2 separate regions of the Homo sapiens genome follow, and region 1 is reported to be linked to region 2. The links are microRNA targets in miRTarBase. Many come from high-throughput screens and were not tested one by one. Region 2 holds a microRNA gene; the other region holds the end of a gene's coding sequence.

Region 1 (5,373 bases), not on the chromosome of region 2:
CGCTGCTGGAAGGGGCTGGGCCACCAGAGGCCCGTCACAAAGCCACGCCGGGCCGCGAGGCTGGGCCCTTCCCGCGCGCACGGACGGTGTCAGTAAGCGTGCCCCCGCATGGGGGCGGGGCTCTGCCGCGCTGCCGGACGCTGTCAGCCGGAGCAGGCCCTCGTGGGGGCGGAGCTTGTCTGCAGGCTCGGACTTGGTCCGTAGACTTGGCTGCGCGGGGGGGCGGGGCCTATTCTCATTGCCGGAGCCTCTCGGGAGTAGGAGCAGGAGGAGGCCCGACCCCTCGCGGCCGTAGGTTTTCTGCAGGCATGCGCGGGCCTCGGCCCAACCCTGCGATAATGCGAGGAAGATACGGAGTGGCTGCCGGGCGCGGAGGCAGGGTCTCAACGGATGACTGGCCCTGTGATTGGGTGGCCCTGGGAGCTTGCGGTTCTGCCTCCAACATTCCGATCCCGCCTCCTTGCCTTACTCCGTCCCCGGAGCGGGGATCACCTCAACTTGACTGTGGTCCCCCAGCCCTCCAAGAAATGCCCATAAACCAAGGAGGAGAGGGTAAAAAATAGAAGAATACATGGTAGGGAGGAATTCCAAAAATGATTACCCATTAAAAGGCAGGCTGGAAGGCCTTCCTGGTTTTAAGATGGATCCCCCAAAATGAAGGGTTGTGAGTTTAGTTTCTCTCCTAAAATGAATGTATGCCCACCAGAGCAGACATCTTCCACGTGGAGAAGCTGCAGCTCTGGAAAGAGGGTTTAAGATGCTAGGATGAGGCAGGCCCAGTCCTCCTCCAGAAAATAAGACAGGCCACAGGAGGGCAGAGTGGAGTGGAAATACCCCTAAGTTGGAACCAAGAATTGCAGGCATATGGGATGTAAGATGTTCTTTCCTATATATGGTTTCCAAAGGGTGCCCCTATGATCCATTGTCCCCACTGCCCACAAATGGCTGACAAATATTTATTGGGCACCTACTATGTGCCAGGCACTGTGTAGGTGCTGAAAAGTGGCCAAGGGCCACCCCCGCTGATGACTCCTTGCATTCCCTCCCCTCACAACAAAGAACTCCACTGTGGGGATGAAGCGCTTCTTCTAGCCACTGCTATCGCTATTTAAGAACCCTAAATCTGTCACCCATAATAAAGCTGATTTGAAGTGTTACCTTTTTTTGGAGGAATTGGGGAGAAGAATGGGAAAAAAGATGGGAGTGACTGCATAATGTCAGCATTTTGTGCTTTTGGCTCAGCATTTGGATTGGATGGAGGATGTAAGTATAGTTTAAAAGCAAGAATAAGTATATTTAGGGGCCCTATGATAATTTAGGGTATTATCTGAAAGCAAGAATCTAGTAGCCAAGGGAGAAACCGCACACACTAGGTCAGGGGTCCCCAACCCTTGGGCCACAGACTGGTACTGGTCCATGGCCTCTTAGGAACTGGGCCACACAGCAGGAGGTGAGCAAGCATTACTGCCCAAGCTCCACCTCCTGTCAGATCAGCATAAGCATTAAATTCTCATAGGAACTCGAACCCTATTGTGAACTGTGCATGCAAGGGATCTAAGTTTCTCGCTTCTTACGGGAATCTAATGCCTAATGATCTGGGGTGGAACAGTTTCATCCTGAAACCAGCCCTCCGTCGCCACCGACCATGGAATAATTGTCTTCCACGAAACTCTTCCCTGGTGCCAAAAAGGTAGGAGACCACTGCACTAGATGATGCACACACTTTGTCCCTCATCCTAGGGCTTTTACTTATGGCCACTTAGGAGATTCCTAAGGCCACAAGTCAAGTAGATGGAGAGAGTATCTTGAAACTTTGTCCACCTTGCAGCAATATGTTGCTAGGTTTGAAACATGGAGTCATGAGGCATTTTGAAAGCCAATAATATCTACAGTTTATTAAGTATTCACTATGCATCAAGTGCTTCATTACATTATTAATACATCAACCCTATGAAGTAGGTGCTATTAAAACCCTATTTCACTCAGAAATTGAGGCACAGAGATCTGCCCAAGATTGCAAGGAATAAGCGGCAGGACCAGATCTCTTCATCACATTTCACATTCCAAATCACTCAGCTATAAACTCCCTAACATGACAGGTTGCCATTTAGAGGTACCAAATGGTTGTCTGCCCTGCTCCTTCCTTGATGCCAACCAGCCTGATTAGCATTGATCAAAGACCAAGCCAGAGAGGTAGTCCTCTCCCTTTTCAATTTCATTTCATTTCTTTCTTTTTCTGAAACAGGGTATTGCTCTGTTGCCCAGCCTGGAGTGCAGTGGCACAAATGGCTCACTGCAGCCACAACCTCCTGGGCTCAAGCAATCTTCCTACCTCAGCCTCTCATTGTTCCATATCTATATCTCTTATGCCCAAAATAAAATTTCCCCTGCCCCTTGTCTGCACTAAACTATAAGTTTCCAAAATGAACCCTTCCCGTACTCTATTTGGTACACATCTTGTCTCCTGAATAGAGTGTATTTTTTATTTTATTTTATTTTGGAGACGGAGTCTCGCTCTGTCACCTAGGCTGGAGCGCAGTGGCACAATCTCAGTTCACCGCAACCTCCGCCTCCCGGGTTCAAGCAATTCTCCTGCCTCAACCTCCTGAGTAGCTGGGATTACAGGCGCATGTGGCCACGCCCAGCTAATTTTTTGTATTTTAGTAAAGATGGGGTTTCACCATGTTCCCCAGGCTGGTCTCCAACTCCTGAGCTCAGGCAATCCACCCGCCTCAGCCTCCCGAAGTGCTAGGATTACAGGTGTGAGCCACCGCAGCCGGCCATCTCCTGAATAGATTTTAAATACCTAGAGGTCAGGGATGATTATTCAATACATATATATTGAATACTTACTATGTGTTGGACCCGGTGCTAGGGTTTTATGTATATATTTGAGAGCTCCACATCCCTGGATCTGAATCCTCCACTTCCCACTGGAACCATGCCCCTCCCAGTCCCGGTAAGTAAGAGGGAAGATCGGGAGGGCCAAATCCTACACCAGGGTCTATCTTAGGGAGGGAAGGGACCTGGCTGGGGGGAGGGGGATTCTGAGGAGTGAAACCACTTCCTGTGTAGCTAGTTCCTGTGTTGACAGAAAGAGCAGAAGAGGAGGTGGGGTGGAGGGAGCAGAGCCAGGGATTAGGGGACTACTGAGGCTCTGGAGATGAGACCGCCAGGAGTCCTTCCCCACCATGAGCCCCCTCCACTCCTGCAGCTGGAGGAGTTTTTCCCAGTCTCAGTGCTGCCCTGGGGCGAGAGAGACTGAACAAGCTGTTTGGGTGGGAAGAGAATGGAGGAAGTTGACAGGGATGGGCGGGGCCCGTGGGGGGGCTGACCAGGAACCCAGCTTCCTGCTCAGTACCCAGGCATCCAGCCCCCAGCTCACCCCCACCCCTTCCAGCCCCCACTCCCCTCAGGAACCCAAGGTTCCAGCCCTCCTCCCAAATCCCAGCCACCCCTCCCCCACCAGTTTCTCCCCTCTAGGGGATGGAGGCTGAGAGACCCCAGGAAGAAGAGGATGGTGAGCAGGTGAGCTGGGCACGGGGTTGGGGAGGCTGACACTGGGAAAGAAGGGAGGTGAGAGGACCTGGGGCAGAAATGTAGGGACACAGGGGCCTTGAAAGGCTTGGGCAAACTGAGGCAGGAACAGAGACACACAGAGAGGAAACGGGCCACTGGCCTAGCCCCCTGTCCACTCCTCCCGCTTCAACCACCACTGCTTGACTAGAATGGACATATTTTGGCATCAGGGCCCCCCTCAGGATGAGGAAGGCTGGCCCCCTCCAAACTCCACCACTCGGCCTTGGCGATCTGCTCCTCCATCCCCTCCTCCTCCAGGGACCCGCCACACAGGTACCCCTACCCACCCAGGGAGAGCCCCGACCCTAGTGCCCACATCCTGACCCCATTACCAAGGCCCACTCCATTGTGGGCCCTCTCCCCACCTCCTCCAGACTCCCCTTGGGATTCCCCATTGCACCCCCTCTCCTCTGATCCAAAGTCCCTAATCACGTCACCCTGTCCACACTCCCCCACGGCTCCTGTCTGCCAACCTCTCTGGGTCTCTGAGCCCTCCACACCCCTCTCCCCAGCCCTGGGACCCCGCTCGGCCTCCCTGCTCTCCCTGCAGACTGAACTCCTTCTGGACCTGGTGGCTGAAGCCCAGTCCCGCCGCCTGGAGGAGCAGAGGGCCACCTTCTACACCCCCCAAAACCCCTCAAGCCTAGCCCCTGCCCCACTCCGTCCTCTCGAGGACAGAGAACAGCTTTACAGCACTATCCTCAGTCACCAGGTAAGACATCCCCCCAGGAGGCAAACCCAGGCCTCCTGGTCTCTTGGCCCCTGTTCTCTTTGGGGCTCTACTCCTGTTTCTCCCTAGGCACCCCATCGCCTTCACAGGTTTCCTATATGCCTCCCCATACCAACCCTTGATCCTCTCAAGAACCTCCTCCTCTCAGACCCTCACCAAAGCTCTCCCTCTCCCTCCACTCCTCCAGTGCCAGCGGATGGAAGCCCAGCGGTCAGAGCCTCCCCTCCCTCCAGGGGGGCAAGAGCTCCTGGAGTTGCTGCTGAGAGTTCAGGGTGGGGGTCGAATGGAGGAGCAAAGGTCCCGGCCCCCCACACACACCTGCTGAGACTTGAGCCCCAACCAGCCCTTCCTTGCCACTGGTCTCAAAGCTGGGCAGCCCATTGCATGCCCTCAACTCTTGCTTGGCAGGGGTACCAGAGACTGAAAGACACGGCACAAATCTCAATATTCATCTCCCACATCACCTTCCCTGGGAACTGGACAGGGTGAAAGTCCTCAAACTCTGGGAACAGGCGAGATGGAACAGGGATTTAACTCCCCGCCCACAGGTCCATGGGAGCTTGAGGCAGTAAGGGGGATCCCAGGCACCCATCTCAAGGAGTGGCTGGGAGTCTTTTCCCTAACTTGTGGGGACACCACCAGTTGTCAAGCTACTAGGCAGTAGGGTCTGAGGGCTCAGGCCTCCACCTGAGAGGTTATAACCTGAGAGACAGCTCTACCCTTCCTCCCAGTAAGAAGGGAAGGTGGGTGGGCACCTGAGAGATTAAGACTATTCTCCCAGTCCCACTACCAGCACCCCCGATCCCTGAGACTGAGGGGTTTACGGGCTGTGAATGGACCTTCAGCCCTGCCCACCCTCCCTCCCCACTGCTGCTGAGTCTGTCTGATGTTTTGGTTGTGTGAATAAATATAATTCCCCTCTGGACTGCAGACTGGTATCTGGGGGGCCCAGGCGGGGTGAAAGGTAGGAAGGTGAGGCCAGAGGCCTTTTCTCTCCCCAGTCTGGCCAGAGGCCAGCTCCCCTCCCCGGCTGGTTAATTACTGGCTCATTAAGCAGCGGCTGG
Region 2 (5,373 bases):
GTTTGTAGTTTGTATTGAATGATCCAGATGACCTGCCCCTGTTCATGTTACTTGTGGCATCTATGAGACCATTTGCTGGTTTTAGGGAATCAATCTATAGGTGGGAAGTTTTCTTTTGCAGAAACTAATTTAGAACTAAGCCTTTGGTGTCAGCAATGGGTGCTCTATACTGGATGCATGAAGACCATATTTCTAGGGGAGGCTGCTTCCAGCTGAATTTCACAAGGTGAGGATAAAGAGAACATTCCTTATCCTCTCCTGATTAATTCATTAAAGGCAAAGGAGGGGAAGGAAAGTTATTAGCAGAGATCTCCCAGAAGTCCTCTGTAACTGTCCCTTTTGCCCAACTGTCACAAGATACTGTTTTTCTGGCATCCACAGCCCTAACCCTGAATATCCAAATGTACTCGTGCATCAAGGATCTACTCAAGTCTCACCTCCTCTGGGAACCTTCTTTGACCTATTACAGCTCTCATTGAGGACCTCCCTTCTATTTCTGATACAAATAGTTTCTACTATTCTAAATAGTCCCTAGTTTAGTAATTTATTATATATATACTGTCTTGAATGGTATGGCCTTGATCTCAAGAGGACCACGATTTGATGTAACTAACAAGCTGCCTGGCTCACTATTTGACTAGAAGGCCCAGGCTTCACATCACTGCATGGCCCTCTAAGAGTATAAGGCCAAGTCCCCAACAGAGCACAGAGGTGCAGATGAGACTCTCCAAGCCATCCTCCCATATGTCAGAGGCTACCCAAGCCCACCTCCATTTGGAAAATTCAAACCTATAATTTGAGGTACCTGGGAAGCCGCTTTCCCAGGGCGGAATGGTCACGGAAACTGGGTAGGCTGGGGGCCTTCTTGGGGAATGAGGGAGTGGAGGAGCTCTTTGTCCCTCCTGCTAGATCAGAAAGAGAAACGTCTCAAGAATCTGGGCCTCCATCTTCTAGGCGTCTCCCTTGGAGGCCCTTCAGGGACCGCCCACAGCGCTTTCTCTCAGCCTCCTCCCCCCCCCCATCCCCTCCCCCACCCGCCCCGTCTCGCGCCCGCCCCGCCCCTCGGCCCGCGGGGTTCCAAGGACGGTTGGTCGCCCCCGCCACAGTCACTCGGCCGCTCAGAGCGGCGGGGCGCACGGGGTCGAGAGAGCCAGCTCTAGGGTTTGGGGCTGGGAACTGAAGCCTGGCGTGAAGGAAGTGGGAGCCCGGGCCGAGGAGGCGAAGGGGAAAGGAAAAGCGAGGGGAACCTGAGCGGGAGGGCCCTGAGAGGAGCGGGAGGCTGCGGGAAGGGGAGGCCTGGCACTCCTGGGGGTCATGGGGGTCGGGGCGCGGCTCCCGGCCTGGGAGGGCGCGGGTCCTCCCCGGCAGCGCCGCCCGCTGGCCCAGCTACGCGTGTTGTGCGCTGCGAGGCCGGCGGGGGTCCCGCTGGGCCCGGGGGTGTCCTCGGGGGCCGCTTGCGCCCAGCCATGGTAGGGCGTCCCCCGGTGAAATGGGGTCCGAGGCGGGCCCCGACCCCGCGTCGGCGCTGCGGACCGTCCGGGAGCTGCAGCCGCGGGTGCCCGGTGCTCGGTTTGTAGGCAGTGTCATTAGCTGATTGTACTGTGGTGGTTACAATCACTAACTCCACTGCCATCAAAACAAGGCACAGCATCACCGCCGCCCGGCCGGGAAGAAGACGCCGGCTCGGGCAGCCCGCAGCCTTCGAGAGAAGATGCCTGAGAAGCGCGGCGTCGGCGTGGGTCCTGCGCAGCCTGCCCCGCGAGCGCCCGCTGCAAGTGCGAGGAAACCCGCGGTTTCTCCAGATACAGTTAAACTGTTAGCTCTCTCTAGGAGTCACAGAAGATGAAACAGTCTCATGCCAGGAAAGCAAAATCCCTGGAGGTGAAGCCCCTCCATCCATGTAACGGTTAATACTGTATGCTGTGATTCACTGTGTCTATTTGCCATCGTCTAGTAGAGTATTCACCAAGCTAGCAACTCAGTTGAGCTCCAACTCAACCAATGAATTGCCTGCCTGTCACAACGTGTTGGGGTACCAACTTGAGACTGCAATTTTTTCTATGAGTCTAGTTACTAGGCAGTGTAGTTAGCTGATTGCTAATAGTACCAATCACTAACCACACGGCCAGGTAAAAAGATTTGGGAATTCGTCCAAATGAGCTGCCTGTGCATCATCAATGTGCGTGGGGAAGAGGGGTGTTGGAAAATGCTGATTTCATCCATTGCCTATTAATTGCTCAGCCAAAAGAAAAAAATCAACATTTCAGCTACTAAGTTTACAATGTATGTAATGTGTATGTATGTGGGGTTTTGTTTTGTTTTTTTTTCAATATTCCTTCAGGCTCTTAACCAAAATTTTAGATATAAGGGGGAATATGATTTTTTTCTTAGCTGACTGATGTATGTTATTATATGAACATGTGATTATTAACTTCTTGAGACTATATTGTTAGTAATATTTTGAAAGTAATATTGTTAGTAATATTTCGAAAGAATAAAGTGCCATAAAGACATAAATTGTGGTTATTGCTATGTGTCCATTTCCTTTGCTAAATTGACTTTATGATGTCCATCTCAGTTCCTGCCACAGTAATCTTAACTTTTCTATCAATGAAGTGGTTAAGTTGTTCCTGCCATGACAAAAATCTCCCGGGAAAGCTACTCATACACACAGACTTGTTAATACTTTTATAAGAAATACATTAACAAAATTTTTCATACTTCTTTTTTCCATGAAGAGACTCTGTTCACTCATTAAGATGTATCCCTTCTTTTAAGTAATCATTTACAACTGTTGGAGTCTATGCAACTTTTAGTGGGAGTGATTAGTAAATGCACTTACACTTTAAATCCAGCTTGTTTCCTAAGATTTAAAGGATTCAGAATTTTAAAATCACAGAAACTGTACACATGGGCACGTATCCGCCCAGTTCAGGCCTCTAGCTCCCAAGGGCTAGGCTTTCAGGCGTGAATTCTCCAGCGCAACGTTCTCAGAACTTCCACCTAGCAGGTGCTGTCCCTGGCAATCTGGTTTGGAAGTGGGGATTGGGGCAATGGGGCTGAGGAATTTAAAGTTTATTTAGCTATCTTTCTGGGGGGAGGGGAGAGGATGTGGCAGCCCACTGAGGATATAAGAAGCTAAACTACTCCCCCACTGACTCCGACAGGACACAACCCAAAGTTGACGTTTTGACTCTCCCATATCCAAGATTTGGACTGGTCCTAAAACCTGATCACCGCAGGGGTGGGCTTCCGACGGCCCCCACGCGCGTGGCGGATCCCAACACCTACCTAGGAAACCGAGGGCAGCCGGCAGGGGCTGGTACCAACTTGGCGGTTCTCGGAGGGGCGGGGCAGGGGCGGGGCGGGGGGAGGGGAGAGGACGCTTGCAGAAGCGTCCTCAGTTGCCATGGAAACGGGACCCAGCGAAGAACCTAGCGGCCGAAAAGAGTCCCAGGAAATGTGCCCCCCGGGATTACTGGTATTTGCTGGCTCCTCGGAACAAGATGCCAACTTGGCTAAGCAGTTCTGGATCTCGGCGTCGATGTATCCCCCTAGCGAATCTCAGCTGGTGCTGCGCAGAGACAGCAGTCAGCGTCTGCCGGTGGCGCGGCCCAGGAGGAGCAGAGGGTCTGGTGAGTAGAATAGCGGCCTCCTGTCAGTCATATCTGCCTCACCGTAACTGGCCTGCAGGTACCAGAGCCCTTTCCAGGAGAAACTGCAATGGTATATACAAATAGTTATAAGTACATACAAATGCATGTATAAATATTTCCTGAACCCTTCCAGCAACCCTTCCACCCGAAAAGGATCAGTGGTATATATGTTACATCTAAAAACATATAAGTTTCCCTTAAATTATGGCATCTATTTGGTAAACAGTATAGAATAATCTGAGGAAATGCTATGTGTTGGCTGAAAGGATAGTTTACATAGTTTAATTCAAACATGAAAAGCCCTGGAGAAAGATGAAGGTGGAGTCAACATTACCAATGAACTTCCTGGACCTGTGAGCCCTTAGTGAGGCCTAGGATGTGGAAACTGTTATGCAATTGTTATAGTATAAAAAATTCAAACGCCTTTAATGTTGTTGACTTTTCCAATGATTTCTTTACTTCCCTTTTGTATTTTTTAGAAAACAGCCACTCCTCGCAGTCTTTTCACCTTGCGAGTAACAGTAAGTACCAAGTTTTATGCCTTTCAACATTCTGACTCCTAGGTTCATCAGAAAATAGACAATAAGTACAAGGGTACTACTTTACACTGTGGTATAACTTTCTGAATTGAACACCTAAGTCCCTGCTCAGGGACCACCCTGTTTATCCAGAGGACAATGCCTAAATTCCTTTAACAGTTTGAACAGGAATGTAGAAATTGGAATCTCTGATCCTGCAGATATGCTCTCTTTCGAGACTTTTTCTTGTCTCTGGACTCGAGCTTACTCATCATCTAAAGAGATTAGAGGTTCCCTGCAGCCATAGCTAATTAACTCAGTCTCCAGTTGTTTGCAAATCTGGTTTGTAAAGTTCCAATACACCACATGTATTTTTGTTTACCTTCCTACTCTATGTATTCCCTTTCAACCCATGTCCAATTTTATATCAATTTTAGTATAAAATCATAATAAAATTATTTCAGATTGAATTTGACTTTATTCCCTCTAGAAAATAGAGACATCTTTGCCGAAGCCCTAAAGATACAGGAATCTGAGGAGAAAGTAAAGTATCTCCAAAAGGTAGGCCAATATTTCAGAAGGTCATCTGATCATCATTAAATTTCTAAATAATCTTGATTTTTTAAACACATGTATATTTAAAAATCTGCTACTTCTAGTGCATCAGCTTGAGCAAATTAAGGAAACCTTTATTAGAATTTTAATTGAAAATTTAAAAATTCTATTCAACATTGGCTATTATCAATCTCAGCAAAAGTCCAAGAATGTATAGGAACAACAGAACCAGAGAGAAATAGAAAGAGGTAGAGTCACACACTTTCCATCCAGTAAGGTCCCCAACCATATACAGTGTTCTAAGAACAGAAATAGCATAAGAGGCCAGGTGCAGTAGTACACACCTACAATCCCAATGCTTTGGGAGACCTAGGCAGGAGGATCCCTTGAGGCCAGGAATTCAAGACCAGCCTGGGCTACATAGTAAGACCTCTAACTCTACAAAAAAAAAAAAAATTTTTAATTTGCCAGGCCTGCTGGTGCATACCTGTAGTCTGAGCTACTTGGGAGGCTGAGGCAGAAGGATCCTCTGAGTCCAGAAATTCAAGGCTGCAATGAGCTATGATCTCACCACTGCACTTCAGCCTGGGCAGCAGAGTGAGACACAGTCTTAAAAAAAAATCATAAGAACAGGAAAAATCAAA

The links. The annotated mature microRNA hsa-miR-34c-5p reads AGGCAGUGUAGUUAGCUGAUUGC and lies in region 2 at 2,076-2,098, shown strand. An mRNA with a match to its seed (bases 2 to 7 or 8) in the 3' UTR can be bound and repressed. Matches are read on the target gene's strand: a 7mer-m8 pairs with bases 2 to 8, a 7mer-A1 pairs with bases 2 to 7 and ends in A, and an 8mer does both.
Region 1: miRTarBase lists NOTCH4 as a target of hsa-miR-34c-5p. Seed matches in the 3' UTR shown: 7mer-m8 at 930-936.

Annotation. Positions count from the first base shown.
Region 1 is chr6:32,190,627-32,195,999 of GRCh38, reverse strand. NOTCH4 (notch receptor 4) reads left to right here. Exons shown (of 30, transcript NM_004557.4): 30 at 1-1,157. The coding sequence ends at 563. It overlaps GPSM3 (G protein signaling modulator 3), which reads left to right and starts at 3,357. Exons shown (of 4, transcript NM_001276501.2): 1 at 3,357-3,528; 2 at 3,750-3,852; 3 at 4,092-4,291; 4 at 4,497-5,234. The coding sequence starts at 3,487. The coding sequence ends at 4,634. RefSeq lists an enhancer at 1-412 and a silencer at 4,878-5,056.
Region 2 is chr11:111,511,376-111,516,748 of GRCh38, forward strand. It overlaps MIR34C (microRNA 34c), which reads left to right and starts at 2,064; the gene lies at 2,064-2,140. BTG4 (BTG anti-proliferation factor 4) reads right to left here and starts at 1,011. Exons shown (of 5, transcript NM_001367975.1): 1 at 806-1,011. It overlaps HOATZ (HOATZ cilia and flagella associated protein), which reads left to right and starts at 3,403. Exons shown (of 6, transcript NM_001100388.2): 1 at 3,403-3,635; 2 at 4,136-4,177; 3 at 4,665-4,735. The coding sequence starts at 3,410. MIR34BHG (MIR34B and MIR34C host gene) reads left to right here. Exons shown (of 2, transcript NR_147706.1): 2 at 1,643-2,513. It also overlaps MIR34B.